Linked DNA regions of Homo sapiens. The protein of the gene in region 7 purifies or fractionates together with the protein of the main gene of each other region. This does not show direct contact. Each region holds a gene or a part of one and is shown on either strand. Other genes may lie near its edges.

The links.
Region 1: the proteins of FGL2 (region 7) and PCNT purify together in Homo sapiens (affinity purification with mass spectrometry; 3 studies listed by BioGRID and IntAct, with this or other methods). This does not show direct contact.
Region 2: the proteins of FGL2 (region 7) and SPATA2 purify together in Homo sapiens (affinity purification with mass spectrometry; 3 studies listed by BioGRID and IntAct, with this or other methods). This does not show direct contact.
Region 3: the proteins of FGL2 (region 7) and ITPRID2 purify together in Homo sapiens (affinity purification with mass spectrometry; 3 studies listed by BioGRID and IntAct, with this or other methods). This does not show direct contact.
Region 4: the proteins of FGL2 (region 7) and CYLD purify together in Homo sapiens (affinity purification with mass spectrometry; 3 studies listed by BioGRID and IntAct, with this or other methods). This does not show direct contact.
Region 5: the proteins of FGL2 (region 7) and MTFR1 purify together in Homo sapiens (affinity purification with mass spectrometry; 3 studies listed by BioGRID and IntAct, with this or other methods). This does not show direct contact.
Region 6: the proteins of FGL2 (region 7) and GNPDA1 purify together in Homo sapiens (affinity purification with mass spectrometry; 3 studies listed by BioGRID and IntAct, with this or other methods). This does not show direct contact.

The regions. Positions count from the first base shown.
Region 1 is NC_000021.9:46,424,674-46,429,187, reverse strand, and holds part of PCNT (pericentrin), read right to left. Parts: intron 3,358-4,514; coding exon 3,217-3,357; intron 1,567-3,216; coding exon 1,393-1,566; intron 794-1,392; coding exon 598-793; intron 1-597. UniProt on the Homo sapiens protein: Integral component of the filamentous matrix of the centrosome involved in the initial establishment of organized microtubule arrays in both mitosis and meiosis. Plays a role, together with DISC1, in the microtubule network formation.
Region 2 is NC_000020.11:49,902,555-49,906,207, forward strand, and holds the end of SPATA2 (spermatogenesis-associated protein 2), read right to left. Parts: coding exon 3,065-3,653; 3' UTR 837-3,064; downstream 1-836.
Region 3 is NC_000002.12:181,918,661-181,923,174, reverse strand, and holds part of ITPRID2 (protein ITPRID2), read right to left. Parts: coding exon 4,500-4,514; intron 4,421-4,499; coding exon 4,293-4,420; intron 3,880-4,292; coding exon 3,729-3,879; intron 2,579-3,728; coding exon 2,513-2,578; intron 1,228-2,512; coding exon 763-1,227; intron 1-762.
Region 4 is NC_000016.10:50,783,025-50,787,538, reverse strand, and holds part of CYLD (ubiquitin carboxyl-terminal hydrolase CYLD), read right to left. Parts: intron 3,681-4,514; exon of another isoform or gene 3,350-3,680; intron 3,211-3,349; coding exon 3,088-3,210; intron 701-3,087; coding exon of another isoform or gene 685-700; coding exon 593-684; intron 1-592. UniProt on the Homo sapiens protein: Deubiquitinase that specifically cleaves 'Lys-63'- and linear 'Met-1'-linked polyubiquitin chains and is involved in NF-kappa-B activation and TNF-alpha-induced necroptosis.
Region 5 is NC_000008.11:65,679,234-65,682,733, reverse strand, and holds part of MTFR1 (mitochondrial fission regulator 1 isoform 1 precursor), read right to left. Parts: intron 691-3,500; exon of another isoform or gene 654-690; intron 382-653; coding exon 283-381; intron 1-282. UniProt on the Homo sapiens protein: May play a role in mitochondrial aerobic respiration. May also regulate mitochondrial organization and fission.
Region 6 is NC_000005.10:142,002,482-142,006,995, reverse strand, and holds part of GNPDA1 (glucosamine-6-phosphate deaminase 1), read left to right. Parts: intron 1-669; coding exon 670-852; intron 853-1,879; coding exon 1,880-2,064; intron 2,065-3,733; coding exon 3,734-3,908; intron 3,909-4,514. UniProt on the Homo sapiens protein: Catalyzes the reversible conversion of alpha-D-glucosamine 6-phosphate (GlcN-6P) into beta-D-fructose 6-phosphate (Fru-6P) and ammonium ion, a regulatory reaction step in de novo uridine diphosphate-N-acetyl-alpha-D-glucosamine (UDP-GlcNAc) biosynthesis via hexosamine pathway.
Region 7 is NC_000007.14:77,192,293-77,197,257, forward strand, and holds the end of FGL2 (fibroleukin precursor), read right to left. Parts: intron 4,694-4,965; coding exon 3,987-4,693; 3' UTR 1,077-3,986; downstream 1-1,076. UniProt on the Homo sapiens protein: May play a role in physiologic lymphocyte functions at mucosal sites.

The DNA.
Region 1 (4,514 bases), on a different chromosome or scaffold from region 7:
GGGCGCCGGGACAAGGGCCGTGGGCTGAACTGCAAGGCCGTTCCCCTTGACGGAATCCAAAACTAGGAACAGAGGGCACTTGCCCAAGCTGACCAAGGGCGCCTGACCCCACATGCGATGGTACGAGACCAGCTCCTGCCCCCAAAACTAAGAGCAGGGAATGGCATCTGCCCACACAGCTGACGGCACAGCACGTGAGAGAACACGGGCAAGAAACAAAAAATCGTTACTTACCCACAGATGACCTGAGCATCTACATAAAAACTCCCGAAGAAGCTAAATTAAATGTAGAAACCTACGAGACATTCCTGAACTCTAGCATGAGCTCCCAAGAATCTGCCAGCACTCAGAGCCCAACCCAGGCCCCTCTTGCCCACATCAGGCCCAAGAGTGAGGCCTCCGTGCCAGCCCCACCCAGCGCTGCCTGTCTCCAGGGTCCTTTCTGCTCAGTCCTATCAGCTGACAACCATGGCAACACTCAGGGGCTTGACTAGATGATGCCCTGTCACCACCCTCTGCTCCCAAGGCCACACAGGTGAGTGTCGGGCGGGCAGGTGCAGAGGCCGGGCCCCAGGCAGTGTAGACAGTGACACCCACCCTGCCTGCGCAGCTGGTGCTCCTGCTGGCTCCCGCGCGCCTCTGCGCTTGTCAGCGCCGTGCGCAAGTGCTGCAGCTTCTCCTGGTTCTGCAGGTGCGTCATGCGCAGCTGGGCACGCAGCGCCTGGATCTCGGACAGCAGGCTGCTCCGGTCCGGCAAGCGAAGATGCTCCAGGGACTTTTCCTGCAGGTCTCCCTGGGGGCACAATGGGACAAGCAGCCTGAGCATTGGGCAGCCACCCCATGCCCCGGCCTTCCCTGCTGCCCGCCCTCAAAACCAGCTCCGCCGGGACAAGCCTGCTGAGTCTGGGATGGGTGCACAGTATCTGCTGGGCCTCAGCTCTGGGGCCTGCAGGCGTCAGGGCTGGGCTGCACTACCCTGCGTGAGGCCTGCAAGCCAGTTACTCTCAACACTAGGTTTCCTCGTGTATGCTGGCAGGAACAGGATTTCCAGTGTCCCCACGGCACCAACGCCACCCAGCCCTGCACACAGAGCACCTCTCAACCTAGGAGGGGCTACTTGGAATGGAGAACGTTTCTTTAGCCACCTATCTCAGAAAAGAGTGAGGCCTGAGGGTGCATCTCGAGCACACCTGTCCTGTTACAGCTGCAGGTGGAAAAGTGCAGCATCCTGCATGGACTGAGCGTCAACACCTGGGTAAGTGACAGCCACATTCCAGCGGTCGAGAGAAACACACAAACCGAAATTCACACACAAAACAGTCTGTGTCACCCTCTCTGCCAGGGCTGGACCCCTGGGGCAAACTGAGGCCTGGTGGCAGAGCTGACACTCACCTGCTCACGGATGATCTTCTCCAGCCTTTCGAGCAGGGAGCTGTGACCCCCCAGATCTGAGCCACTGAGTCGGGGCTGCAGCTCAACCCCCTGCATCTCCTGCTCTTTTTCAAAGGCCTCTTGCACAACCTGCAGAAGGTCCCCTCTCCAATCGGGGCACGCGGTGGGCACTTCCTAAAGGAAGAAGGAAGAAACGTGGCGTCCTCACAAATGCACCTGCATCCTTGTGCCCTAAAGTTCGCAGTGTGACTGCGTTTGGAGATGGGGCCTGCGGGAGGTGATTCAGGGTAAATGAGGCCTCTTAAGAAGAGGAAGAGACACCAGAGCTCACTCGCTGTCTCCATCATATGAGGACACAGCACGGAGACGCTGTCCGCAAACCAGGAAGGGCGCCTACACCAGAATCCAACCCTGTGGGCACCCTGATGCCACAACAGGTGAAATCAATGTCTGCTGTTTAAGCCCCCTGGTCTGGGGTGTTCTGTTACGGCAGCTGAGCAGACTGACAGCCGTTCAAACAGAAATGACCCTGACAGAAGAGAAGACACACACTGCCCAGGGCCATTCAAGGCACGAGAAGCAAAGGCTGCCATCATGAGCACAGAAGAGACTGAAAAAGACGATAAAGTAAGGTCAGGAAAATGTCAGCAAAGCTCCTTCCCTCTTTTCCTGCTGCTGTGCCTTCAAGGCCCAGGGCCTGGAGGGGACCTAAGGCTGCAAGGGGCTACCCGCTGGTCCCCAGGGGCAGCGTGCAGCACCAATGAGCCTCCTGAATGCCAGCCAGGCTGCCGCTCGCACACAACCAGGGCCTGCTGGAGGGGCGAGCGGAGGCGGGTGGGGCTGACCCTCCCACCGGCTCTCCATGGCACCAGCACACCCTGTGCGTTCCAGGCACAGGGAGAAAGCCCTTCCCTCCCTCACAAAGCTTTGATCCCAGTCAGAGGCAGGCACAGGGGCAGGACAGGGTGGGCACGGAGATGGGAGGGAGCGTGATGGGAGTTGGCACCCACTCCACAACCTCCACAAGCCCTGGTGATGGAAGCAGACAGGCAGGGAGATGGGGAGGACTTGGGGAAAAGTGGGGTGCGGGGTCGACAGCACAGAGGTGAGGCCCTGAGGTCCAGTTGCTGGGGCTTGGGGTGTGGAGGGGGAGGTAGGAGAGACCCAAGGGGAGGAATGAGGCCGGAGGGCAAGTCACCCGAGTGGCAGGAGGAGAGGCCCTGGGGGACAAGTGCTGGAATGGGCCGAGTCCGCAGGGCCACATGGCCAGGAGGGACCACTCTCAGCCTCCCCGCAGGCTCACACAGGGCACAGGCCTGAAAGCCCTGAGCCCTTCTGCCCCCCACACACCTCCACGTCCCGCAGGGAACCTGCCCCGAGAGCCTGCGCTGGCTGTGGGAGATGGGAAGGCCTCCCCAGGGTTCTTGGACCTCAGTCTTTTTGGCCGTGCTAAAAAAAATCCTAGGCCAGGCACGGTGGCTCATGCCTGTAATCCCAGCACTTTGGGAGGCTGAGGCGGGTGGATCACAAGGTCTGGAGTTCAAGACCAGCCTAGCTAAGATGGTGAAAGCCCGTCTCTACTAAAAATACAAAAATTAGCTGGGCATGGTGGCATGCACCTGTAATCCCAGCTACTCGGGAGGCTGAGGCAGAGAACTGCTTGACCCGGGGTGGTGGAGGTTGCAGTGAGCCGAGTCTCAAAAAAAAAAAAAAAAAAAAAAAAAAAGAAAGAAATCCTAGTGTCCACGTGGCCCTAAGGACGCGGCCATTACCACAAGCTCCTTAAATCCTTTGGAAAAGAAGTGTGTGAAGGGCAAAATAAACCTGCGTCTTTCCCCCATGGAGCGAGATGTCCTGTATCTCGTCTTCCTTCCGGGGTGGGTGTGGCTCGCCGCTTGGGGGTGCAAGGCCTTCTGACAGCGCCAGGATCTGGTGGCTCTCGTCACGCACCATCTGCAGTAAAGCCTGTGGCGGGAAAGCGCGTCAGAAGGGAGTTGCCTGCCACCCCACACAGCCACGCTCTACACCACCTGCGGCCCCGAGCTGCCGCCAGGACTCTGTGAAGGGCGGGCAGCTGTGGAGAGGGAGGGCACCGCCTCGGCTTCGTACAGGCGGCACCCACTTCTCAAGCTACAAGGTTTTCAAGCCCACCTCTCCCGACCTTCAGAGAGACAACACGGAAGCCAGGCTTGGAGTGAATTTCTCTATAAGCCACTCCAAAGATGGCCCCGCCACTTCCTCCACTCCACCTGCTCCCTGAGGGGGACACCGTCCCCCGCCTAAGCCTGGACAAAGCTCAGGGCAGGGCTTTAGGCCAATGTCCACAGCGAGATCACAAACATATCACACACTCCCTGCCCACCTGGGACGCTACGAGAAGGCCACACGATGGCCACCCAGGAGGCCTCTGTGCGTGGTCCGGCTGAGGCCAGTGCCGACCACCAGCGTGGGGTGAAGCTGCCTGTGCTGGGCACGGGGAGCAGAGAAAACCATCCCCAGCAGGCCCTGCCCACAGGTCTGTGAACACGAGGCGGCTGCTTTATCCCACCGATTACGCAGCAGCTGGTGTCCGGACACACACTTGACTGTCTCGCCAGAGAGGCTGAGGGGTAAGCAGACGGCCCTATGGAGAAGCTGGTGTCACGACCAGCCTAGAGCCCAGAGCCCAGAGGCTCAGCGCGGTCACCACCACATGAGCACACACCCAAGCACAGGACACGTCTGCATAAAAACCTGAAGAGAAAAATAATCTAATAAAGTCCAAAAAGAGGGAAATGCAAAATGAGGCAATGATGAAGCCTACGACGGGTGTGACTGACTGAAAATAGGCTTTCCTGTAATTTTAACGATATGCCAAAAAAGGTCAAATATTAACACTAAAGTGTGAAACCAAATTGCACACTATGTTCATCTCTAACAACTGAAAACACTTTTACTTTAAACATAACGTATGTGGCACAGGATGGATGCAAACTGAGGTCTGCGGCAGAGCAGGGTGGGGTTGAGGGGAGCGGGGTGGTGCGGGGAGGAGCGGAGACGGGGGGAGCAAGGCCGTGGCTGGGGGAGCAGGGTTGGGGGGGGCGCAGTGGGAGCAGGGCCGGGGGAGCAGGGCGGCGGGCAGG
Region 2 (3,653 bases), on a different chromosome or scaffold from region 7:
ACTCTGTGTACCGCCATTTCCCCATATGTAAGATGGAGATGGTAACAGTGCCTATTTAATAGGATGACTGAAGCTAGTAAGTAAGATCATGCACATAGTCTCAGGATACAAATGCCTGGCGGGAGGATCACTCGAGCCTAGGAGATTGAGACCAGCCTGGGCAATATAGTGAGACCCCACCTCTACAAAAAATTAAAATTAGCCAGACATAGTGGTGCCCACCTGTAGCTACTTGGGAGGCTGAGGTGGGAGGATCACTCAAGTCCAAGAGGTCCAGGCTACAGCTAGCCATGATCACACAACCGTACTCCAGACTGGGAAGTAACAGAGCCCGTCTTAAACTAAAAAAAAAAAACATGGCCGGGCGTAGTGGATCACACCTATAATCCCAGCACTTTGGGAGGCCGAGGCAGGCAGATCACGAGGACAGGAGATCGAGACCATCCTGGCTAATACAGTGAAATCCCGTCTCTACTAAAAATAACGAAAAATTAGCCAGGTGTGGTAGTCCCAGCTACTTGGGAGGCTGAGGCAGGAGAATGGCGTGAACCCAAGAGGCGGAACTTGCAGTGAGCTGACATAGCGCCACTGTGCTCCAGCCTGGGCGACAGAGCAAGACTCCGTCTCGAAAAAAAAAAAAATTTTTTTTACAAAAAATTAAAAAAATAAAAAGTGCCAGGCTCGCAGTATAGCACTCAAATGCTATTTGTCAGTTTCATGGAAGAGAAAATTTAAGTCTTGTCATTAAAAAACTAAATACAGCTTAAGGAAAAATAAACTCCCAAGTAACCAAACTTCAAAGCAGGGCCAGGGGACATAAAACCCCAAACACTTCATTTAACAATGGAAGACACTTTATTATTATTATTTTTAATCATCTCTCAACATTTCAACTCTTGGTAGAAATCAAATGTAAAACATCTGCATTTTTAAATTAGCATGTATTTAACTATCTCAATCACAGCAACCTCATCCAGTAAGATGCACACCTGGGAGCAGGGCTGTAGTATTTCGTATTCCAGTCTGTGACCACAGTGCGTCCGTGATGACAGGTACACTGGACTTTCCCTCCTAGGATGTGTTAGTCATTCCTGCTTTTGTCCATAGGGTAAGTTACGTGGCATCACGGTTGGTTAGAAAGAGTTAGTTACTGTAATGCTGGCGCAATCTGGAAATGGAAAACTAGAAAACTAGAGCTCTCAGGAGTGGGCCAGGCATTGCCGATTCTGAAATGTGAAAAGGAAGAACATCAAAGATGAATGCCCTGCTAGGCTGGTCTTAGTAATAAAGTTGGTTGAAATTCAGCTTAATATACACACTGTACATCTACATGTGATCTACCAGATAGATATATATATATATATATATATATATATATATATATATATATATATATATTAAAAAGAGAGCCATAGAAGATTTGGAAAACCTTAAAATCACTCAACTGAGTTGGAAGAACATCAGCAAATTCACAGTGGCCTCAGGATTCAGCCAGACTTAAACTTGCTCAAGAGCTGAATAACTTTCTCCCAGAAAAGCCCACTGCATATAAATCCCTTAACATTGTGTACATCACAAACAGTTATGGCTAAAATATAGTTAGTTCACAAGGAAGCGGCTTTATTTTCAAACTCTTGCCCCACTCCTGCTCTTGTACCCCCACAAGGAAAATCCAGGGGTTGGTAATTCACATGAGAAGCTGAAGGGGCCTTCAGGCTTGGAAGCGCTTAGGCTTAGCTGAGCATCTGAGGAGCCGTCTCTCTGATGGGCACATGCCGACTCCTGCCCACTTTTAGTGCAAAAAGATTGCAAATGTTGCAGATGAGTCCTGGAAACTGGTGAAGAGAAGAGGATTGAGATGGAGGGGCAGTAGGAATCCCAAATGATTTTCCTTCTGAAACGAGACTCAAGAAGTGTGAAGTGCAAGGTTCCTGCTCAGCAAGCTATAGGTCCGACAGGTGAGGTCCCTGAATTGTCATAGGTTAGCAGTCTGCAGACACACAGACCTCGACACCCGCGCTCACCCCCTAAGTGCACACTGGAGGTAGGTGTATAGATAGTTACTGCAGGGAAGACAGTGGCTCTCCACCAGCTCAAGAAAAGGAGGCTTCATGTCTGTTCCTCCCTGCCCCAAACTCTCCTCTCCCCTCGGGCCATAGTGAGTGGAGGATACAACACGAATGGGCGCGAGGCCCTCCCTTGGAAGACTAAAGAACCCAGGGCATTTAATAAATAGCTACATAATTCATTTTTTTAACCACGTTGAAACACACAGCAAGTTGAATATTTATTTAAAAATAAATCTCAAAAATATCTATTGACAGTACAGTAAGAGGGGCATGTGCAAACAACAGAAAGGGGGAAGTCAGTCCTGCTGTGGGAAGCCCACACATCAGTGTGTTGGAGCAAAGTTCACGAAGGCCATGGGCTGACTGAGCTGTGGTGTACGAAATGACATTCAGCTAATACTGGACTCGGTTCACCTTTGACACCTGGAGAGGTGGGGAAGCCAGGGGGTGGGGAGTCCAGCTGGGGATCCTTGTGTTTAGGAAGGGGGCGGCCAAGGGATGAGCCTTTGGGAGAGGCCCCGTGTGGCAGGAGGGCTCATTTCACAAGCCAACAGGCCTCTAGCTCGCCGCTCCAGGTGGATGTTTGGTGACCTGAAGGGCCCTTCCCAGTCCAAGTTGGCTTTGCAATGGGAGGGGTAGGTGCAGCGAGGGTCCCAGAGACAGAAATCCTCTTTAAAGGAAAAAACAAAACAACAAAACAAAACAAAACAAAACCCCAAAAAAAGAACCAACTGAACAGGGAGTGGAGAGATTAGCAAAATGAATCTGAACGGAAGTGCCACCTTCTCCCTTGTCAGACAACAAAGCAGCCATTGGTTGAGATATCTGAGTCGCTAAGTGAACTCCCACGTGGACACAGCCAGCCCACGATCTCTGCCACCTACATGGTCAAGTGCAGGCCTCCGCCTCTGAGATCAATGCGTTAGTACTTCTTCACCGTGAAACCCGAAAGGTCGGTTGATGTAGCCCTTGGAGCTGGAAGGGGCGAGGCCGGTCTATCTGTACACGAGATGGGAGAGCTGGGTGGACTTGTAGTTCAGCTGGTTGTTGGGCATGAACTTGTGCAGCTCACTCTTTTTGTAGCAGGGGTCATAATGGTAAGCGCTGAGGCAGGCGTCACATGAGACTTTTGAACACTGGGTGCAGGTGTTGGTGGCGCCTGGGCGGTTGCAGAAGCCACAGCGGGAAGTGGGCGTGGTGGAGGGCTTGGATTTGGAGTGAAGGTGCGGGAGGCGGTCGAGGCCCTGAGTCTGGCCTGGGTACTTCTCCCGCAGAGATGCCCCGTGGGCCAGGCTGTCATGAGTCGAGGCCTTGCTGGGGAAGGCGCTGGGCTTGGAAGCTGGAGGACAGGTGAGCAGGCTGTCACAGCGCTGGCAGAGGGAGGAGCTGCAGGACAGCCCGCAGCTTTGGCACTTGGAGAGGGCGGACTCTTTGGCAGGGGGCGAGCGCTTGTGGTAGAGGGAGTGGGCATCGTTTCTGAGCAGCCACACATCCGGCCGCAGAGCATCCTGCCGACGGTAGGTGGCCCTGGGTTCAGAGTCTGTGTACAGATCCACGTCATCCTGAGTGGAGAAGTAGGTACCG
Region 3 (4,514 bases), on a different chromosome or scaffold from region 7:
AATTTTCTCAACTTTTGAACTTTCACTACTAATCATATGTAATTTCCTTTTGCAGTTCTTTTGGTCATCCATAACTATGGTAATTCTTCAAGTTCTTATGCTGCTATCACCTAGGGCAAACCCTCTTTTCTTCGTATATTTTGATTTTTGAATAAAAAACACCAAACCAAATCAATCTATTTATACTTATTAAAATCACAAAATCATTTTCTCCTATCAATTGTAATTATAAAATGCAGTTTCTTTTTTTTTTGAGATGGAGTCTTGCTCTGCTGCCCAGGCTGGAGTGCAATGGCATGATCTTGGCTCACTGCAACCTCCGCCTCCCAGGTTCAAGCAATTCTCCTACCCCAGCCTCCCGAGTAGCTGGGACTACAGGCACATGCCACCACGTCCAGCTATAAAATGCAGTTTTTAATCCTCGAAGAGATCTAAACTGTAAATCCTCATTTTGTAGATGTGGAAACAAGAGGTCCAAAGAGTACGTCATGTTTATTTTGAGTCCTTCACATATCTTTTTCACCATACTGAACACAGAGAATTGTAATTATTTCACATTAGAGTATGAAATTTGCAGAAATGCCATTACAAATATATCTTAATTGACACAAACTTGATCAACAGGAAAGCTAATTTAAAAGCTCTGTGAAAATTATTGAATACAGTGAATCAAAAGAACATTCTGTAAATAATTAATATTCAGACAAAATCTCCTCTAACATATACCTCCAAATAAATGAATGAAACACAGATTTTACCCACCTCCCGTATGACTTGCTGCAACTCATCTTGCTCCACATTTTTATGCATTTCCTCAGCAGCTGGCATTGATGGGAGTTTTCCATGCCCTTCTTCCACTTCAGATTTAGGTCCTACAACTTCTGGGGCTCCTTCAGCTGCATCAACTTCCTCAGAACTTTCCAAATCTGGAGGTGTCTGCACAGAGCCTGTTCTAGAAGGAGCTGTTGGCGTTAGAGCCACCGATGCTCGGAACACTTTCTTCCTTGCCACTAATGGGGTTTTGGATTTGCCCACTGAGGCAGTAGAAGGTACTCCAGTTCTTCTGTTAGCATGAGAGGGACCAGAACATACAGAAGATGATTCTGATGTTGCTTGGGAAAAAACAGATTCTGAGCTTTCTCCAGGAGGAATTTCAAATCCCATTTCTCCAAGTCCCAGGCCCAATTCAGACTTCAGGTATGACTGCTCCTGCATCAGTTCAGTGACCTGGAGATCATAAAAAAATGTTATTCTTCTCTCTTGGAATTAAGATTGGTAGCTAAAAAGGTTAAAGTCCTGGTTGTCATTATTGCCTAAAATCATGTAATTTGTAAAGACATAAATCTATTCCATTAATTTAATAACTACTCAATTTTATTTGCAAAAATGGTAAGTAAAATTTAAATTCCTATTGAGATGAAGCAACAAAACAGGTAAACAGAATACATAGTAGGATGAAATTTTACTTGTTACCACCAAAGTGTCCAAATCACTTGTAAGGAAGAGTAACTAGTGAAAAATAGTTACTCATAGTGCTTTTGCCCCCAAATGAACCAATCTGTCTAACACAATAAAGACAGATTTCTGTTAAAAACGTGGTCATGTTACAGCTCTAACTACCTAAAGAACCAGGATCAAACTGTGAAAGCACATGTCTCCTGAAATGTAAATTAAAAATCAATTTTCTTTTTTTTTTTGAGATGGAGTCTCACTCTGTCACCCAGGCTGGAGTGCAATGGCTTGATCTCGGCTCACTGCAACCTCCGCCTCCCGGGTTCAAGCAAGTCTCCTGCCTCAGCCTCCCAAGTAGCTGGGATTACAGATGCCTGCCACCATGCCCAGCTAATTTTTGTATTTTTAGTAGAGATGCGGTTTCACCATGTTGGTCAGGCTGGTCTTCAACTCCTGACCTCAGGTGATCCACTTGCCTCAGCCTCCCAAAATGCTGGGATTACAGGCATGAGCCACCACACCTGGCTTATTATTTTTTAAAGACAGGGTCTTGCTCTGTCACCCAGGCTGGAGTGCAGTGGCACAATCATAGCTCACTGTAGCCTTGAGCTCCTGGCCTCAAGCAATCCTCCCGCCTCAGCCTCCTGAGTAACTGGGACTACAGGCACATATCACCATGCCTGGCTGATTTTTAAATTTTCTGTAGAGAAAGGGTCTCATTTTGTTGACTAGGCTGGTCTCAAACTCCTGGCTTGAAGCAATCCTTCCACCTCAACCATTTAAATAAAGTGCTGGGATTACAGGCATGAGCCACTGTACATGTTTTTATGGTGCATTACCTCCTTTAGTCAGAAAGATAAATCACTATTGCAATTCAGGTGGCTTTCTAGTGGCTTCAGACAGCAATGGACTTTCAAAGGTGAAAGTCACTTCCAATCAACAATAATTTATCAAATTATGTATTTAAAATAAACATATATTTCATCTAAACTAGGGAAACTATGTGTCTGAAATGTTGTATCATTCCCTTCCCCAGTGATTTAAGAGGAAAGAAGCTTACTGGTTCCATTACATTCAATGGAGAAGGGCATGACAAGTTATCAGCGCTTCTACTGCCACACATTCCCTGAAAAGGTAAGAACAATATATATATGTATATGTGTGTGTATATATACATACATGCATATATAATTATAATGTACATATATATTTTTTCAAATCACAAGACTTTTATAATAAAATTAATTGGCTAATTAGTGCCTGGAAGCATCCCTTTATGTCACAAAGGTTACTCTCAAGTGTCACAGATCCCATAAAATGCATTATTGTGAGTTAAAACTGATACAATATGCAAAAAGGATGTTCTAGTTCTCCCGTCACCAACATACACTTCTCAGAATGATAAATCAAAACCATGTTGAAAAGTACATTCATTAGCAATACAGAACATCCTTAGTCTATGCTATACATATATGTGTTTATACACCATTGTTTATTCTACTTCATTTATAGTATATACACACATAATTGTATGTGTGTATATTCATCCATTTCTTTTTAACAAAATCAAATACATTGTTAAGGTAACAAAGAATAATTCACTATTTCAGCATTTCAAAGCAACATATTCTACAACTTCAAAGATATTTGCAAAAATAATACAACTGTTGAAGTTCAAATGTTATGGAAAGAAACATTAGAAGTATGAAAAGTGGTACAAAAACATGTTTCTTTTTATTCTCTTGGATATATATCTATATATTTAGGAAAATACATATATGTATGTGTATGTATATATATGTATGAAAATATACAGGTATCATTTGATTCCTTTAAAAACAAATGGAAAAGAATCCAAAATAAAGAAAAAGTTTAAAAGGAACACTTTTTTATTTAAAGGCATGAAAGAAAAAAAAACAGCAAAATATGCATCTGTGTTCTCTGCAGTTACATGCAACAATTAAAATTTACATTAGTCATATGTTAATTCACTAGCATTTTTCCTTTAAAAACCCTCAACTTTCGTATAAGCCCTTATTCTTTCCTGTTATTAAAATTTATCATTAAAAATTTTCAACATATTTCTAAATATACTATTTATGACAATTATTACAAATTGTACATTCAACTGATTTGTGGGAAAGCTCCTTAAACAGTATGCATGCTTTTAATACCATTAAAATAAATGACTTGAAATGAAGGCACACGTCCTAAATTATTGGAACATTATAAATAAACCTTTGGTGAAAACTCCGACCACCCTCCAGGTAGCGTACCATGAGTGCGGAGGAGCGGAAGGGTGAAGGCATGCGCACAGCACGAAGCTGCTCCTCCAGGCCCAGCAGGCGCTCCTCCAGCTGCAGTTCCAGGTCCTGAAGTTCCATTCGGACTGAATTTCTCAAACCCTGGAGCTGATCAACTTCAAACCTATTGGTATGGTGAAGGGCACAAAATTGGAAAAATGCAGTTTGGAGATTCCTAATCACAAATCTTTCAACAACTACTATATGCTAACAGAAGGCATGGAAATCTCAGGTTCTAGAAATTAGTACAATATCAACTACAATAGGTGTATCCACAAGGACATTAGTCTTTCTTCCCCTATCCTCTCACAAATATCTCAAACACGGGAAAGCAGGTTACCACTACCCTTAGGATATTGAAGGCATACAAGTTTACTTAGTAAAACACTATCTATGACTAATCTTATCTACACTGGTTCACAAAACAGATACAAGGTACACAGCAGTAGAATCAAAACCTAATTTTAAAAAATATAAGTTGAGAAGACTTTGAATGAAAAGCTTTTTGAGGTGTGCTAAGACAAAATGAACTTTTACCTCTCCTCCTCAGTCATATGATGATAAACCATGGTTTGCTGACGCAGCATTGCCAATTCTAAATCCATCATTTGTGTTCTAAACAAATTCAGGCTCCGCCTCATTACCTGGAGCTCCTGAAAAGTATTCTAGAATGCAATATAACAAAATTACACTTCTAAATTCTACAAATTATTTTGGAACACAAAGATGTAAGAAAGAACTTACTTCATAAAGAGGTAG
Region 4 (4,514 bases), on a different chromosome or scaffold from region 7:
GCACATAATGAAATAGCTGTTATTTCCTTTGGAGGGGTTAAGGTAAATGGAGTACAATCTGAAGTATGCTCTGTTTTTTCCTGCAAGCCTCTGAACATTACAGCTGTTTACAGTATGCTGCTGACAAATTCAAAGTCAGGTGGTGAATCTTTGAGTAAGCCCATTAGCTAGGAAGAGATTATAACACTGTTCCCTGACTATAAACTTAATCCTAGTTAGCAGCTTTCTAACTCCCTTTTACAACAGGGAAGACTCAGTGGGAAAATGTAGAAAACCCAATGCAACTCTGCACCACAAGAGAGAAACAACTGAGAATATCATTGCTAGGTGGAAAGGAAAGGACTTTTTATTTAAGCATTTAATATACTAGAACCAGCCAGCTTCTTAAAGGAGTTCATTATTCCACATCATCAATCACTTTTAGAAGAGAGGAAGAATTTACAAAAAGAGGAGCTAACCATATATCACATAAAAAGAAATTTCTAATTTAAAAGAAAACCCCCCAACTACACAGACACACATTTCAGCTAATACTTTGACATGTGAATATGCTCTTCAGTTATTTTTAACGCATATAAGTTAAGATGGTCACCTTTTTCTTCAGAGGTAAATCCTGATGCAGCCTCCACCTTTTCAAGTATTTTCCTCAGTTTCATAATTTTTGTGGCACACACATATCCATATCTAAGTTAGTAAAAAACTATTAATTGATATTGGCATGTATTAAATTATATAACACATCTTAATCACATATTTCTTTTTTTCTTTTTTTTTTTTGAGATAGAGTCTCACTCTATCACTCAGGCTGGAGTGTGCAGTGGCCCGATCTCAGCTCACTGCAACCTCCGCCTTCCAGGCTCAAGAGATTCTCATGCCTCAGCCACCAAAGTAGCTGGAATTACAGGCGTGCACCACCACATCCAGCTAATTTTTGTATTTTTAGTAGAAACAGGGTTTCACCATGTTGGCCAGGCTGCTCTTGAACTCCTGGCCTCAAGTGATCCGCCCACCTCGGCCTCCCAAAGTGCTGGGATTACAGGTGTGCGCCACCACACCTGGCCAACACATTTCTTATACAACTCCAGTATGTCATAAATCAATAGGTTAGACAATTATTTTTGAAGAAAACAATGATAAGCTTCTTCTTGAAGTTTGCAAAATTAAAGATCTAGAACCAGAATTATCCTAGACACTATTATATGCTCTACAAGTAACTGTCATACACTAAGATAAAAAATTTTTAGGTTTGCTGTGACTGATTTTTTAAATAATATTTGCTTGGGAAATTAAAGCATTTACTTTATAAAGCAGAATATACAATTTTGAGAGAGAATATCCTTTTAATACTGAAGTGTGAAACAGCCACCAAGGGAAATGGGAAAGGGAATTTATAAGAAACTGAAAATCTAAAATCTGCAATCAAACCAATTGGCATAATGATGACATTTTCTCTCTTCTTTGTCTGAATGCAAGACACATTCAATCAGTTTAATATCACTTTAAATTTGTAATTCTAAAAATGGCTTCAGAGGAGAACTTGGCGGCTACCATAAGTTTACTAAGGACAAGTCAGAACTAGCTAATTTTATATCCACTTTTTATACTATTCATTCACTCATTAGTTTCCTGCAACCAATACAGACTGAGAATCTACCACTTACATAGTAACGTAACCTGTCAGCCACTGGGAATACAAAATGAGTAAGGTTAAAAAGACAGGGTCTCTGAAGAAAAGCAGAGATTTCAGCACCAAATAAAACCAGTCAGCTATATACAGATATGAATGCTACAGACACAGGGAATCCTGATCACAACAGGGCATCTGACCAGTTTCTTACCGTGGACAGGGTAAGAAAGTGTGATTAACTATGATTCTTAACTGGCTGAACAATAGGATCCAAAGAATGTTTATTCTTCCTCTCTTCTAGGAAGGAGGTGTTAACATGCCTTAGAGTTTCGGGTTTGACCTGTCTTGTTCCAGTATCAATTACTTGGGGGAAAAAAATCGTATGTTTAAAAATTTGCATAAGACAAAATAGTTGATGTGAAAATCAAGATTCACAATTATCTTAAAGAGTAAGATCATTAGAGAAATCATTACAGAATTTAAAGAAAGCAAAAGATATAAGTGAGGAAATTTATTCTCTTATAATTTACTTTCCTAGTCATGTGATATAGCAGATAATTTGGAATCCTCATTGTATTTGAGTATTCTGCTTTTTTGGTTCAAATTTGATATCAAACTATTTTTTACTTTAATTGATAAATAAGAACAGTATATAAAAGGATTCAAATTTATCTTAATATGGACTTTAAATAAATCACTTTCTCTCTATATTCCTGAATGAACAAATTTGTTTTATGATCTATGGTCCTAATTCTTCATAGTTTAAATTTTATAATGTGACATTATCACATATCACTACTACCACTTATTCAAAGTCTTTACTAGATATCTCCTGTCACTTGTGCTTGTACCATTACAAATTGCTTCCTGTGGCCATAAAAAGACATATTTATAATTCCTAAAGTAGGAAATGGAAAAAGAATCACCTTTTTAAGGCAGGTGGAAAGAGGCCAAATATATTCCTTTAACCAAAAAATATGGTACTAAAATACATCTCATCTGTTGCTAGTCCAAAGTATTAAACACTAGCTATTCTATAAAGAATTTCCCTTTCTCCTTTTCTTTCAGATTTAAGAAGCTAGACTACACCAATTTAACTAATAAGCATGATTACTTGTAGCAGAAGTGTTGGAATAAACTATTTCAAAAGATAAGAATCCTAAGTATTATGTATTAGCTTTCCTAAACATACTGCAATTGCTAAATTATAGTTTACTCTAGCAAAATAGGTTAAATCATTTCATGGAATATGCTATGTTCTACACCTTGGCCACATTTAAGAAATTAAATAAGCAAAAAAGTACAAGGACCAAAGGTTTAAAAACGTAATATTTTACCATAAGAACTAATTTTCACCCATCTCTTATTACATGAAGACAAGGTATAAATTAATTACTATACCAGAAAACAGCAAATAGAACACCATGTAAAGGCAAAATAGCAATTTGTTTTCTACTTACATTCTCAGAGGATTAACAATTTCTGTCCTCAGTAGCTCTTGGGTTTCACTATAATATTCTACATCGTTCTTTTCTTTGGGTCTAAGTAACACAGTGTCCAGAACAGAACTAAAAGCAAATAAGCTGCAAAAGAAAAAGGATAATTTTCTTCATGCTGTAAACATATTTTTCAAGAAACAGATTTTTAACAGAATTAGAAGAGGAAAATAAGTAAAGTCTGGAGAACAAATAACATAACAATTTGTGTTTTTCATTAACACAGGTACCAGGACCCCTGTGAAGATACCCATGGTTCAATCATCAGGACCTACAGATCCTTCCATGTTAAGGACAACACCAATAATACTGAGAAAGCAAACGGCAGATTGGCAGTGTTAAAGGATAACAACGTGCCAACAGAATATTAAGAAAGAAAACTTCTTTGCAAAAGTTGATAGAGAGACTACAAATATCAGTCAAATTACAAACAGACAACAGAGGACAGCATTTGGAAACGACTTCCCGAGGCAAGCACTATTCAGTGCCCCACTTCCCTCTCCCCATGCCCCTTTGCAAAGATCTATTACATTAATAAATTTCTTTAAATGCTAAAATCACTTATGAGTGACTAACAGGCCAGGTGCGGTGGCTCATGCCTGCAATCCCAGAACTTTGGGAGGCCGAGACGGGTGAATCACCTGAGGTCAGGAGTTTGAGACCAGCCTGACCAATATGGTGAAACCCCGTCTCTACTAAAAATACAAAAATTAGCCAGGCATGATGGAGTGCACCTGAAGTCCCAGCTACTTGGGAGGCTGAGATAGGAGAATCGCTTGAACCCGGGAGGTGGAGGTTCCAGTGAGCCGAGATCACGTCACTGCATTCCAGCCTGGGCGACACAGCGAGACTCCTTCTCAAAAAAATAAACGAGTGACAGCAGTAACTTGCTGTTATCAAAGAAAAAGAAAATTTAGCTAATATAGATTTTTATCAGGAAATCTAAAGAATATTATATCAATGCTACAAGGTTTGTTTTTGTCAAAGTATTCTGCAAATAAAATGGCCGCCACTTTATTCTTCTTCCTACTTTAAAAATGTTAACATCCCATATTAACTTCCTAATTCTTATCATATGGCTACAGAACTGGCAGGCTACTCTCAATTTAGCCCAGTCTACAATCCTCAGAGCCTAAAGATTCTTGGTTCAATTTCCAGAGCTTAAAGATCCTTGCAATGTTAAGGCTGGGCGTGGTGGCTCATGCCCGTAATCCCAAGCACTTTGGGAGGCCAAGGCGGGTAGATCATTTGAGGTGAGACGTTCGAGACCAGCCTGGCCAACGTGGTGAAACCCCCGTCTCTACTGAAAATACAAAAAAGAAAGTTAGCCAGAAGTGGTGGTTCACACCTGTAATCCCAGCTACTCAGGAGGCTGAGTCAAGAGAATCGCT
Region 5 (3,500 bases), on a different chromosome or scaffold from region 7:
TGAGGTCACCTAGGAATTAACAACTGCTTAGCTTATTATATGCTCCTAAATCTTCACATATGCATCCTTAAGAAGGATAAATATCTTAAAAATCTCAATCACGTCACAGAGAAACTAAAATTAGAAAGGCTTTACTGTGGTTTTTAATCCTCTTCTATTGTATTGATAGTGGCATCAATTGGTGAAAAGTCTCAAAAACAAAATGCTTTTAAAACCATCTTGCCTATTTATATTTCTAATGTACATATTAATAAAATACTTAAAATATATAAAATATAATACCTGAAACTGAACTCTTGGACACTGAATCAGAGACAAATTAGTACCAATTTTCCTTACGATACTTCGAGACGAACCATATGGCTTCCTAGACCAAAGTACCTGAGGAAGTAGGAAAAACCGAAAGCTTAATTACAAGATGTACAGAACTGTTAAGACAAAGCATTAGACAATTATTTGTATGACATACTAACACATTAATTACAGGATCAGAATGCTCTAAATGTTATGGCAAATAAGCTAATGTTTCTCAATCCAAAAATAAAGAATATATAGATAGATAGAGAGATAGATATTATTAATTCAATAAAGTTTAATGTAAAGTATTATATAAAAATATAAACTAGCCAGTAATTTTTAAATACTATACTTACAGTAAAAATTTTATTTTCATCAGGTTTTCATACTATTCTGCAACAGAAACACTATTTTATCTCTTCTGCTATATTTTTAGTTTTAGAATTTTGATATACATAGTTTTTATTAAATGTATGTTACTTTTGCTGTTACACACTTTTCAAAACAATCCCAAATTAGTACAAAGTTCAGAATCTGAATGTGTACCATGCAGGGTGCTCCATGTTGTTTGCTGCACAAGAATGCTTGGCCAAGGGTGAGCAAAGGCTGAAATCCAGGCATATTGCTCTTGGGAGGCCTGCTCCCCAAAGGAAAGGTAAGAAATTTCATCTGAGCAGAATTTCTCAGATGAAATCATAATAAAACAGGACATTATGCTATGCTTAAAGACAAAAACAAACCCTCAAAGCAAAAAAAAAAAAAAAACAAAAACAACAAAAAGCACATGTGTTGAATGTTAGGTAAATCATTATAAATTGTACCTTGAAACTTCTCCCCAAGTATATGACCCCTCTTTAAAGGAAAAACTATTCATCTGTTTTGAGTGCTACACTTGAAAGCCTGGACAGAATAAGTAAAGAAAGGTAGTATGCTATTAAAAGCAATTTTAAAAGAAAAGAGTAAGAATTATATGACTATTATACTTAATTCATCAAACTTTAACATTCAGTTATGTAAGGCCAGGTGCGGCGGCTCCTGCCTGTAATCCCAGCACTTTGGGACACCAAAATGGGCGGATCACCTGAGGCCAGGAGTTCAAGACCAGCCTGGCCAACATGGCAAAACCCCATCTCTACTAAAAATACAAAAATTAGCCAGGCATGGTGGTGCACACCTGTAATCCCAGCTACTTGGGAGGCTGAGGCATGAGAACTGCTTGAACCCAGGCCGGGCGCGGTGGCTCACGCCTGTAATCCCAGCACTTTGGGAGGCCGAGGCGGGTGGATCATGAGGTCAGGAGATCGAGACCATCCTGGCTAACAAGGTGAAACCCCGTCTCTACTAAAAATACAAAAAATTAGCCGGGCACGGTGGCGGGCGCCTGTAGTCCCAGCTACTCGGGAGGCTGAGGCAGGAGAATGGCGTGAACCCGGGAGGCGGAGCTTGCAGTGAGCCGAGATTGCGCCACTGCAGTCCGCAGTCCGGCCTGGGCGACAGAGCGAGACTCCGTCTCAAAAAAAAAAAAAAAAAAAAAAAAGAGAACTGCTTGAACCCAGGAAGCGGAGGTTGCAGTGAGCCAAGATGGCACCACTGCACTCCAGCCTGGGTGACAAAGCGAGACCTTGTCTCAAAAATAAAACAAAATAAAAACTCAAAAAACAATTATATTCTAAAGACTAAAAAGAACCAAATCAGCTGAGTATGAATTCTGGAGAAATGGATACTACCACTTTTTTAAGATCAATCCGTGATCATTCTACTTTAAAGAATGAAATTACCCCAATATAAACAAACAGCATAACCAAACAACGGTTCACTGTAAACAGTGGAGGCTCCAAAACCTAACTCAAACTAGACCCTTAGATAAAAGCATATACAACTTATAAAATGAGCACAGAAACTATCTGATTTCTTAAATTTTAGCAATCAAGTCCAATTCAAGGATAACAGTATGAGTCAGTGTGGGGTTCAGGGCTGGGCACAGTAGCTAACATCTGTAATCTCAGTGCTTTGGGAGGCTGAGGTAGGAGGATCATTTGTGGCCAGAAGTTTGAGACCAGCCTGGGGTCTTTTTGTGAGACCGCCATCTCTACAAAAAATTGGAAACTTAGCCAGGGGTGGTGATGCATGCTGTCATCCTAGCTACAGGAGAGTCTAAAGCAGGAAGGTCCCTTGAGCCCAGGAGTTCCAGGCTGCAGTGAGTTAGGATTGCACCACTGCACTCCAGCCTAAGCAACAGAGTGAGACCATGTCCCCCCGCCCCCCAACCCCTGAGAAAAAAACCAACAAAGTGGAAATCATAGAAGGATATATAATACCCCTGGCACCTGCCATAGCTTTCATATAATTTTTATCACACATTTTCCAAAGTTTCACTGAATCTTACCTAGAAGAGTTCCAAAAAGTACTTATAACCTATACTGACTCCAATAACCAACAAAAATGATAGCTCTTGCTTCGGAAATGTAAATAAAAAGGATGGCAAAGATTAGAAAACTGGTAAGTAGAAAGGAAGATAAAAATATTAAAATATGAATAGTATACAAAGAATGTTAAGAAGCAAAGTTACTCTGAAGCTTAGAAGAAAACATCATTCACATCAATAATCATACAGGATTATGACACAAGTAGTCTTAATAACGTGAGGACTAAGGGAAAGGAAAACATCTGACTAGAGAAAAATGGGAAGCCTCGCAAGTTCTACAATGTCAACATCAGACTACCCACCAAAAAAAGAACAAACATGGGCAAATAATTCTAAGACAGTATTTAAGCAAACTTTTTACCTTATTACTATTATGTATTTATTTTTGAGATGGAGTTTCACTCTTTCGCCCAGGCTGGAGTGAAGTGGAGCAATCTCGGCTCCCTGCAACCTCTGCCCCCTCCAGGTTCAAGTGATTCTCCTGCTTCAGCCTCTTGAGTAGCTGAGATTACTGTAGCTGGGATTACAAGTGAATGCCACCATGCCTGGCTAATTTTTTTGTATTTTTAGTAGAGACGGGGTTTCACCATGTTGGCCAGGCTGGTCCCGAACTCTTGACCTCAAGTGATCCACCTGTCTTAGCCTCCCAAACTCCTAGGATTACAGGCGTGCACCACCGCACATGGCCCTACCTTATACATTTTAATAGATCCTGTTCTTTTACAAATAAATCCATAGGGCAAAAGTAAGTATACCATTCAGTCATTTCTCTTCTTGA
Region 6 (4,514 bases), on a different chromosome or scaffold from region 7:
GAATCATAAAGTATTTGTCTTTTTGACTGGCTTCTTACACCTAGCATAAAGTCCACAAGGTTCATCCATTGTTGTAGTGTGTGTCAAAATTTCCTTCCTTTTTAAGGCTGATTTTACATATTCTTAATGCTTAACATTAAACATTATTTTTTTTTCCTGGCCAAAAAAAAAAAAGTTGATCTGGGGAAGCCCTAAGATAGTTCTCTCTAACCACCTGGTGTTCAAGCTGGGATTTATTCAGGCTGAGTGGGGTAGAACTGGGAGTGGATGGTGGGTTGAGAGGCACAGGGTGAGGGGTGTGCTTGCTTGCTTTCTAAGATGAGTTCAGCCCTACCCCAGGTGGCCAGAGTGTCCCCAGCCTCTAACCTATGGTCATTGCCTTATGAAAAGCAGATCAGATCAGAATGTGGGGATTTCCCAGGCCCTTGGTGTGCAGTTACTCTGGCCAAGCCCTGTGGCCACAGATGGTGGTACTGGGTGGGTGGACACTTATGGATACTGGCTCAGCCTGTGCCGAGTGGCTAGGGGTCAGAGGGCTGGTGCCTAAGGCTCCCAGATGGGCAGACCCCTGGGAGTGTCTCTGTAGGTCAGCATGGTGTCCTGGCATCCTTCTTAGGAGAGGGGCTTTGGCTTGGCCTAGGCATAACCGAGTGTCTCACGGCCCCACAGGCCTTCCTCGAGACCACCCGGAGAGTTACCACTCCTTCATGTGGAACAACTTCTTCAAGCACATTGACATCCACCCAGAAAACACCCACATTCTGGATGGGAATGCAGTCGACCTACAGGCAGAATGTGATGCCTTTGAAGAGAAGATCAAGGCTGCAGGTGGGATCGAGCTATTTGTTGGAGGTGAGCTTGACACTCTGCAGCACACATGTCCAGGGCCAGACCCGTGGGAAGGAGGACAAGACACAATGCCTGTCTGCAGACAGCTTCTTCTGGGTGTGCTAGTGACCGTAGAGACAGAGGCGGGAGAAATGGGCCCTGCCTGGCTCTGTTACTCAGGAACTATGTTATCTTGGAGATCTCTTTCTGCAGTTTGATGCCTTGTCTGTAAACTGAGAGGTTTGGGTTTGGACTCTGAGATTCTGTCTACTCCCCAGTCTTAAGGTTTTATGGATCAGTCCTGGAACTTATCTAAACATTTAACATCATGGACTCATGTAGTTCCGGAAGGCTCCACACAGCCCCTGTAGATAGCCAGTTGAACCCCAGAGAAGTTAGGTGACTCACTCAAGGTTCACAGGTGGGAGCAAGTGTGTGCTTCTTGGATTTGTGCTCGGGTCCTCTGGGCTGCCCTTCTGTGTATCCATCTATCGCCACCTCTGGAGTTACCCATGAGGGGTAACATTGAACTGCCTTTTATTGCTCTAGAGATCACTCTTCTATACTTCAAGGTGGGGAGGAGGGGGGCAGGACCTCTCATCCTCTGAGATTTTAGAACCTTGGCAGCCCCTGTCCAGGTTCTCTGGGTGTTTTGTTCACTGCACCTCTATCCCAGCAGCAGGACCCTCTAACTACAGGCAGAAGAGACAGAGAAGGTCCACTTTTCTGACAATCTGGGGAGGCAGAAGCTGTTTGGAGTGTTTCCTCCTCAGCTTTTTGAGGGTGATAGCAAGTTAACAATGTCTGTGTGTGCCTCAGATAGACATGATGGGGAGGGTCTCCTCTGAGACAGTATGGCAAAGAGAAAGAAATGGTAGGGAGGGGGACAGATCACATGTTTAAGGTGTACCTGCCCAGGGCTGCAAATGAGAAAGGTGACACAGCTTTCAATGATTTTTCTTCAGACCCTAGTTAGGGAAGGAGAGATTGTCCATTCTTGAAATCTTGGATCCCTGGGACTGACAGGGCTGCACGGGCTCTCTCCCTATAGGCATCGGCCCTGATGGACACATTGCCTTCAACGAGCCAGGCTCCAGTCTGGTGTCCAGGACCCGTGTGAAGACGCTGGCCATGGATACCATCCTGGCCAATGCTAGGTTCTTCGATGGAGAACTCACCAAGGTGCCCACCATGGCCTTGACGGTGGGGGTGGGCACTGTCATGGATGCTAGAGAGGTAAGGGCATAAGGGCCCCACCAGCTTGCGCTGGTGGACTTGTCTTTCTCTTGTTAATCTTAACTATACTGGTACCACCTACATTCTTATTAAAGATGAAGGCATGGTAAATAAGGCTAAAATCCCTGCTGACCCTGTTACTCACTGTTCCTCTTGCGTCTTTGGAAGACATCATTATTCCCAGTGTGAGGTGAATCCCTTGAGCACGTTTTTGGTGCCTTTGGCTGACTGCCTGAGACAGCAGGCTCTCTGGCCTCAGGCCCCTTTCATGCTTTTCACAGGCAGAGAGGAGGCCAGCATCGCTAATGTTGGAATATTTGTACCTGACCAGGTATGGAGAGAGGGGTTCCCTTGTTCCTTGTAGTTGGTAGAGGTCACTGTTGGGACACCAAGGATGCTTGTGCTTCTAGCCCCGTGCTCAGAGATTAATAAATGTGGTGAAGTATGATTAAAATATAAGTGTTTTAAACTGAATTTAGCTTTTCCCCTAAAAAATTGGCTATCATTTGAATGTGAATTTTTTGTGGTTCCAATTTCCTTATTTTCATTAGAACTTTAGAAGCATTTTCTCTTCCTTTCTGACGTGTATAGACATGTTAGATTTACATTTCTTTGCCCAAGCCAATAAACAAGCATCTAAATCAGTGAAAACTTCCCTGTTTAAAGTGAACTTTTGTGAAATGAGTGATGGCACCCAGATTTCTGTTGGGTAATCTTCAATCAGTACGTGGGGTGGGGGTGTTTACTCGCTGTTTTTAGCTCTGCAGCTTGGAAACAGGTTTAGGGCCGTCTTTATCATGAGGGCATCTTGATCTGGGAAAGGACCTGGGGCTGGAAATCAGGAAATTATCTTTTCTAAAGAGTTCTGGGTTGCTGAGGGGTCCGGAAGAAATAGTCACATTCCCTCTCTGCTTCTGCATTCTAATCTTTTAAGAAAGGAACAGTAAATCCTGTTCACAACTCTGTGGCACATGTGAATTAAAATGAAAGGAAATCTACAGAACTGAGTTTTTTTCTCTTTTCCTGCCCTTGAATAGAGCTGAGTTCTTTAAGATCACTTACATTCTCGATATTTTAACTGTTAAGTGGAGACTGTGCCTTTGTTTTATTATATATTAACAAAAACCATCACCCCAAGTCACATTAGTTCATAGGTTTAATGCTGTGAACTGAAAGTGACCAGATAATGGGGCAACCTTTCTGGGATTCAGCCTTAGAGGCCCCACAGATAACTCCCACCATTGCTTGCAAAGTGCCCTTGCTGGTGGTGCAGGTTGGGAGCCCTCTTTCACAAACTGTGCTTGTGTAGAGTCACCCAGCTGATGGGATAGCAGGCCTGGGCATGGCATGTCTGTTTACAGGGCACCTTCATAGTCATCATCAAAGATACCTGGAGGCACTGTCACGTGGTAGTCAAGAACATGAACTTTGGGGTCATAAATGACCCTGGGCAAGTTATTTAACCCCCTGGGGCTCTGTTTTCTTATAAGATGGAGATAATGATGCTGCCTGCCTCGGGTTATTTGTGTGATAAAGCACAGGGAGCACTGAGCAAAAGTATGTTGCATGGTAACCACTTACAATGTGATATGAAAAACAATCATCCTTACAACTGTTTAGGGTGTCTGGAATGCTCCCCTCCATCACAGACTTGTTTTCTGATCCCCAGGTGATGATCCTTATCACAGGTGCTCACAAGGCATTTGCTCTGTACAAGGCCATCGAGGAGGGAGTGAACCACATGTGGACCGTGTCTGCCTTCCAGCAGCATCCCCGCACCGTGTTTGTGTGTGACGAGGATGCCACCTTGGAGCTGAAAGTGAAGACTGTCAAGTATTTCAAAGGTGAGGGAGGTGTGGGTCCAGGAGGAGGTGGTCAAGCTTAGGGTGTGCTAGGAGTAAGGAGTAGATCCAGCTTTCATCCTCTGGTCATTTTAATTGACAACTGTAATCTTAAGAAATATCAAACCCAACTGCATCACACTACACAGTCATTTCTCTTCTGCCTGTGACTGCAAAGATCCATTTCTGGAGATCTGTTTGCTCTGAGGAGGAGGAAAGAAAACGCAATGTGGTCCAAGGACTATGTGGTGACCTCACAGTGCCATTAAGCCTCAGGTTTTCTCTTTTCAAATCTTAAACAAGCGATTCCTTTCTTTTATTTACTTTCTTTCTTTTTGAGACAGGGTCTCACTCTGTCGCTCAGGCTGGAGTGCAGTGGTGTGATCTCAGCTCACTGCAACCTCCACCTCCCGGGCTTAAGTGATTCTCCTTGCCTCAGTCTCCCAAGTAGCTGGGATTACAGGTGCCCGCCACTATACCCAGTTAATTTTTGTATTTTTAGTAGAGGCGGGGTTTTGCCATGTTGCCTAGGCTGGTCTCAAACTCCTGACCTCAGGTGATCCACCCACCTCGGCCTCCCAAAGTGCTAGGATCATAGGTGTGAGCCAC
Region 7 (4,965 bases):
GATTCTATTACTATTCCTATTTTATAATTGAAGGAACCAAAGAACATTAAGTGACTTGCCCAGGATCATACAGCTTGCAAATAGTGGAGCTGAAATTCAAACCAGGAAGGCCAGCTCCTGAGTTCCTGCTGTTAATCATGGGTGATAAGACAAAACCCAGTGAGGAAAGAGGATGGCATTCTATCTAGACCAAGGAAACAGTATACTAAAGGCAATGAAAACATTAGAAAGCGTAGTTTGTTTGTGTACAACAAGGCGTTTAGTATGGCAGAAGTATAAGTAGTGGTAAAAATCATTTCATGAAGGGACTTATTTGCCAGATTTTATCTTGTAGAAAATAAGGCATTGTTGGCCGGGCACGGTGGCTAATGCCTGTAATCCCAGCACTTTGCGAGGCCTAGGCGGGTGGATCACGAGGTCAGGAGATCGAGACCATCCTGGCTAACATGGTGAAACCCCGTCTCTACTAAAAATACAAAAATTAGCTGGGCGAGGTGGCAGGCGTCTGTAGTCCCAGCTACTCAGGAGGCTGAGAGAGGAGAATGGCGTGAACCCAGGAGGCAGAGGTTGCAGTGAGCCGAGATCTCGCCATTGCACTCCAGCCTGGGCGACAGAGTGAGACTCCGTCTCTAAAAAAAATAAAATAAAATAATAAAAAAAAAGAAAAGAAGGCGTTGTTGAAAGTTTTTTAAGCAGGACAATAACATGATCAGAATTGTACTTTTGAACAATCCCCCTGGTAGGGATGAAAGTTGGACTGGAATAGACTGAAACCAGAGGTACAGACTATTCAGATGCGTTTGTGTTGTCCTAAGGAGATGAAGAGGGCTAACCAGAGCAGCAACACTAATAACGGAAAAAGAGGAGAGGAAGTTGAATGCCACAAAATGAAACTGAAACTTTTGTATTTCAAATGTTTCAACAGTATTCTAGAGGGAAGTAAGATAATGGTGTTCCTCTATTTGCCTCTGACTTCTTGTTAATGAAATAGTACTCATTAAAGTCTTCAGAGTCACAGATATTGTATAGCTGAGGTAAGCATTTTACAACTTTTCAGACACAAGTAAGTACATAAATATTATTTTACAACCAACAATATTTAATATTTCCACATTGAAGAATAGATGTGATAATTAAATCTTTTATAAGGTTTTAAAAAGACATGAAACATAAACCTAATTATACATAAAAGAAAAGAATTTTAAACAAGAGCTTATTGTGATGACATTACTCATAACTTTTACCTTTAAAACCTTTTCTTGGGTAGCTATTCAAAAGTAAAGACCACAAGTTTTGTTGCCCAGATTTCTTATGTTTTGTATATTTAAGCTCTTTATTTATTGAACAGATGTGTCATTAATTCATTTGGAGCATTACTATTATCAGTAAAATTTGATTTTTTTTTCCCCTCAGTCATAGGTAAATCAGCTCCACCTGGAATTTCTAAGGACCCAGTTTTAGTCAATATTTTCAAGTAATCATGACCTCAGAAATAGTCTTAATTAAGATAACAAATATTAGCCATCAAAATGGAACCAAGACAAGATTCTAATGTTTGTAAACAGTCAATCCATATTTATGAATATTAGCATATATTGGTGAATAGTTAAGGCAAAAGGTTCTAGCAGATGTAATCTATTTCCATCAACATGTTAAATGTTATAAAAGTCTAGAATTATTGGTAACATGAAATGATTCCAAAATGGAATTTCTGTGTTACAGAATTTACTAGAAAAGTGCTGTGAAAGTATAATGAAAAATAAAGTGATCCCTTGAAATAATGTGGATAGAACAAGCTTTTGAATATTTACATGGATTAATGAATTATTTGCCAAATTCTCCTGAAGTTATACCTAGTTCCCATTAAATTAATGGACACCGTGTATATGAGCATATACCTTTCTTTAGAACTATGTTTTGTGATAAGTCCATTTTTACTCACAGGAATTTACTTAAACTTGTACATATATTAATTATATATACTAAATGACAATGACCTTATCTGAAACAAATACATTGTATAATATCAAAACGTTTTTAGTCTTTTTTAAAAAGTAAAAAGTAAAAAACAACGTCAGTTACATCATTTACATTTGGTATCCCACCTAATAGAGACACAGCTTTTGAAATCTACAATATTTTACATTTTGGTCATCATTTAATGCTATTTGCATTTCTCTTTAACATTTTAATAGTATTTGTGATATATCATGTTTAACTGAAAGCTTTGGGTTATATATTTTAAAGGAATATCTTACTTTTTGACTAAATAGTTCTGTAAGGGCCTAATATTTGAAAAATTAGCTTGTTACCTGAAGCAACTATCCTCCTTAATCATTTTAAAATAATGGGTAAAGATGCATCTTTGTAAATATATTTTGAAAACTTGGTTAGTGTATTAGAAACAGACACCAGAAATTAAAAAAATTATTTCTAGGACTGGCATACACTACAGTGAATTACTTCAAATGTTACTCTAGAGCATTTTTAAAAATACGCAGAATACTGCTGTTCTCTCTGAGATGATCCCTTTTTACGATGATGAAATTAAACACATTTAAAAAGTCTTTTAAATATTATATATAGCATTCCAGAATTGATGAATTATAAAAATTACAGATACTTCTGTTTGGGTAAAAATCTATCTTTTAGTTTCTGATAGTAAAATAAGCAATCTACCAGCCAGGGTTGAAATATATAGTATTTTAACTACTGTTCTATATATTTCAAAATTCATGTTTTCTATCTGTCCTAGAGAAACTTAGCCTTCTATGAAGTGAATCACTTAATGATATTATTGCTTTGGAGATAAAATTGGCCTCAGAGTATGATAGCCTGTAAGTAAATGCTTCATTACCCACATATCCCTACCCACCCCCCCCAAAAAAACCTACCAGTAGTCTAGTACAGTAGTGAGCAATCTTAAATTAAAAGCTATTGTTCACACAGAGCAGAGGAAGATAATTTTCATGTTAAAGCAGTTTTCAACATCAAACATCTAAGGAGTTATAAACTATAAATGAATTACCTTTAAACCCTGGTCTTCACAGTTACATTGCTTTCTGAATGCTTTTTGGGGTGACATTATGCTACCACATTTTTAAACGGTTTAAATGACAAGTATTTTATATTTCATGAATGATAAATGAACAAGTTTAATTATATAGATATTAGTTCCCTTAGTCTGGGAACCAAAATGCTGTAGGGTTGTTCTGTTGCAAAGTAAATGATATAGATTAAGTTTGTCTCAGAATGAAGATTACCCAAATAATTATAGCCTGAAAAGAGTGATATACCTTCAGATGTGCTTAAATCATGGCCCAAATACAGATTACTTTGTGTAGAATCCAGCCTACTGAATAAATTTTATTATTTTTTTGTTTGAGACAGAGTTTTCTCTGTCACCCATGCTGGAGTGCAGTGGCTCAGTCTTGGCTCACTGCAACCTCTTCCTCTCAGGTTCAAGCGATTCTCCTGCCTCAGCCTCCCAAGTAGCTAGGATTACAGGCATGTACCACCATGCCCGGCTAATTTTTGTATTTTTAATAGAGACAGCGTTTCACATGTTTGGCCAGGCTGGTCTCAAACTCCTGACCTCAAGTGATCTGCCTGCCTTGACATTCCAAAGTGCTGGGATTACAGGCGTGAGCTACCACACCCAGCCAACAATTATTTTTTAAATACAGCAAGTAATACAAGCAATAGAAAAAGTTTCAATAGAAATTAAAAGAATTGTAAATCTAATGTATAATTCTCAATATTGCTAATTGCTTGCAAGTGTTCATTGGATAACAGCATAACAACAAAGGACTCCTTTAAAATGCATTGTTTTTCAGCTTTATTTCAAATGCTGTGTAGCATAAGAACCTAGCCGTCAGACATCATTTTTTAGCTATGAAAAATATGAAACAAGGCATATTCTAAAGTGCTGAAGGAATTAATTGCCCTATTAGATAACGAATACCTGGAGGAATGAACAGAGTGATTTATGGCTTAAAGTGCTTGGGTCTGATCATCATCTTAGCCTCTTTGAAGGAGGACTTGTAGCCACCAGGGTGTGCCTCACTTACACCAGGCCAGGTACCCCAGAAAATCCCATTACGGACACCTCTGTATTTTTGGTGATAATATTTGCCATTTAAGTTTGCAGAAAGACATGCATCAAACCACCAGCCTGAACTGTAGTACAGCCCACAGTTCCCAGAAGGATATCGATCATTGTCTTTATCTGGAGTGGTGAAAAACTTCAGATCGTGGTTGTAATGTTTGTTGAAACGTAATGCATCTCCAGCTGTGCCATTATAGTTACCAACGTGTAAACGATATTTGAGAAACTCATTAGCCACATAAAACTGATCATACAAGGCATATAGTTCGACACCATTAAAGTCTTCAAGATCTATTCTCAGAATCATTTCCTTACTCTTGGTCAGAAGATGAATTTTATCGTTCCCCAGCCAAAATTCCCTTCTGAGGTTTCCAAAGCCTGCTTTGTAGTCTTGCCATGTTCTGGTGAAGTTGGTGCTCCCATCGAGACGTGCCTGCAGCACTGTCCAGCCTCCCCCCATGGTCTCCATGTCACAGTAAACTTCAAAGCTACTATTTTTGGGATCAGGTGTAACTCTGTAGGTCTCACTGCTTCTTTTGCCTATTGCGTAGTAGTCAGAGCAATCTTTATATATTAGATGTTGAACTGAAGGGGAAATAAAAGGAAGGCATTGGATCTTGTTAATAGAAACCATGCATCTGAAGAATTCTTTATATGTACAAAAGCAGTTTGATAATTGAATCAATGGCAGTAATGAAACTTTACTAAACTTACTTGAACCTGTTTAGCAAATGCTTAAGGCCTCACAAGAAGAACCTAATGTTATAAAGCAGAAAGGACCTCTAATATACTCTTGGTTGGTAGTAATAATGACAGCATCAACAGCAAACGACAATAAGAAAATAATAAAAGTACAG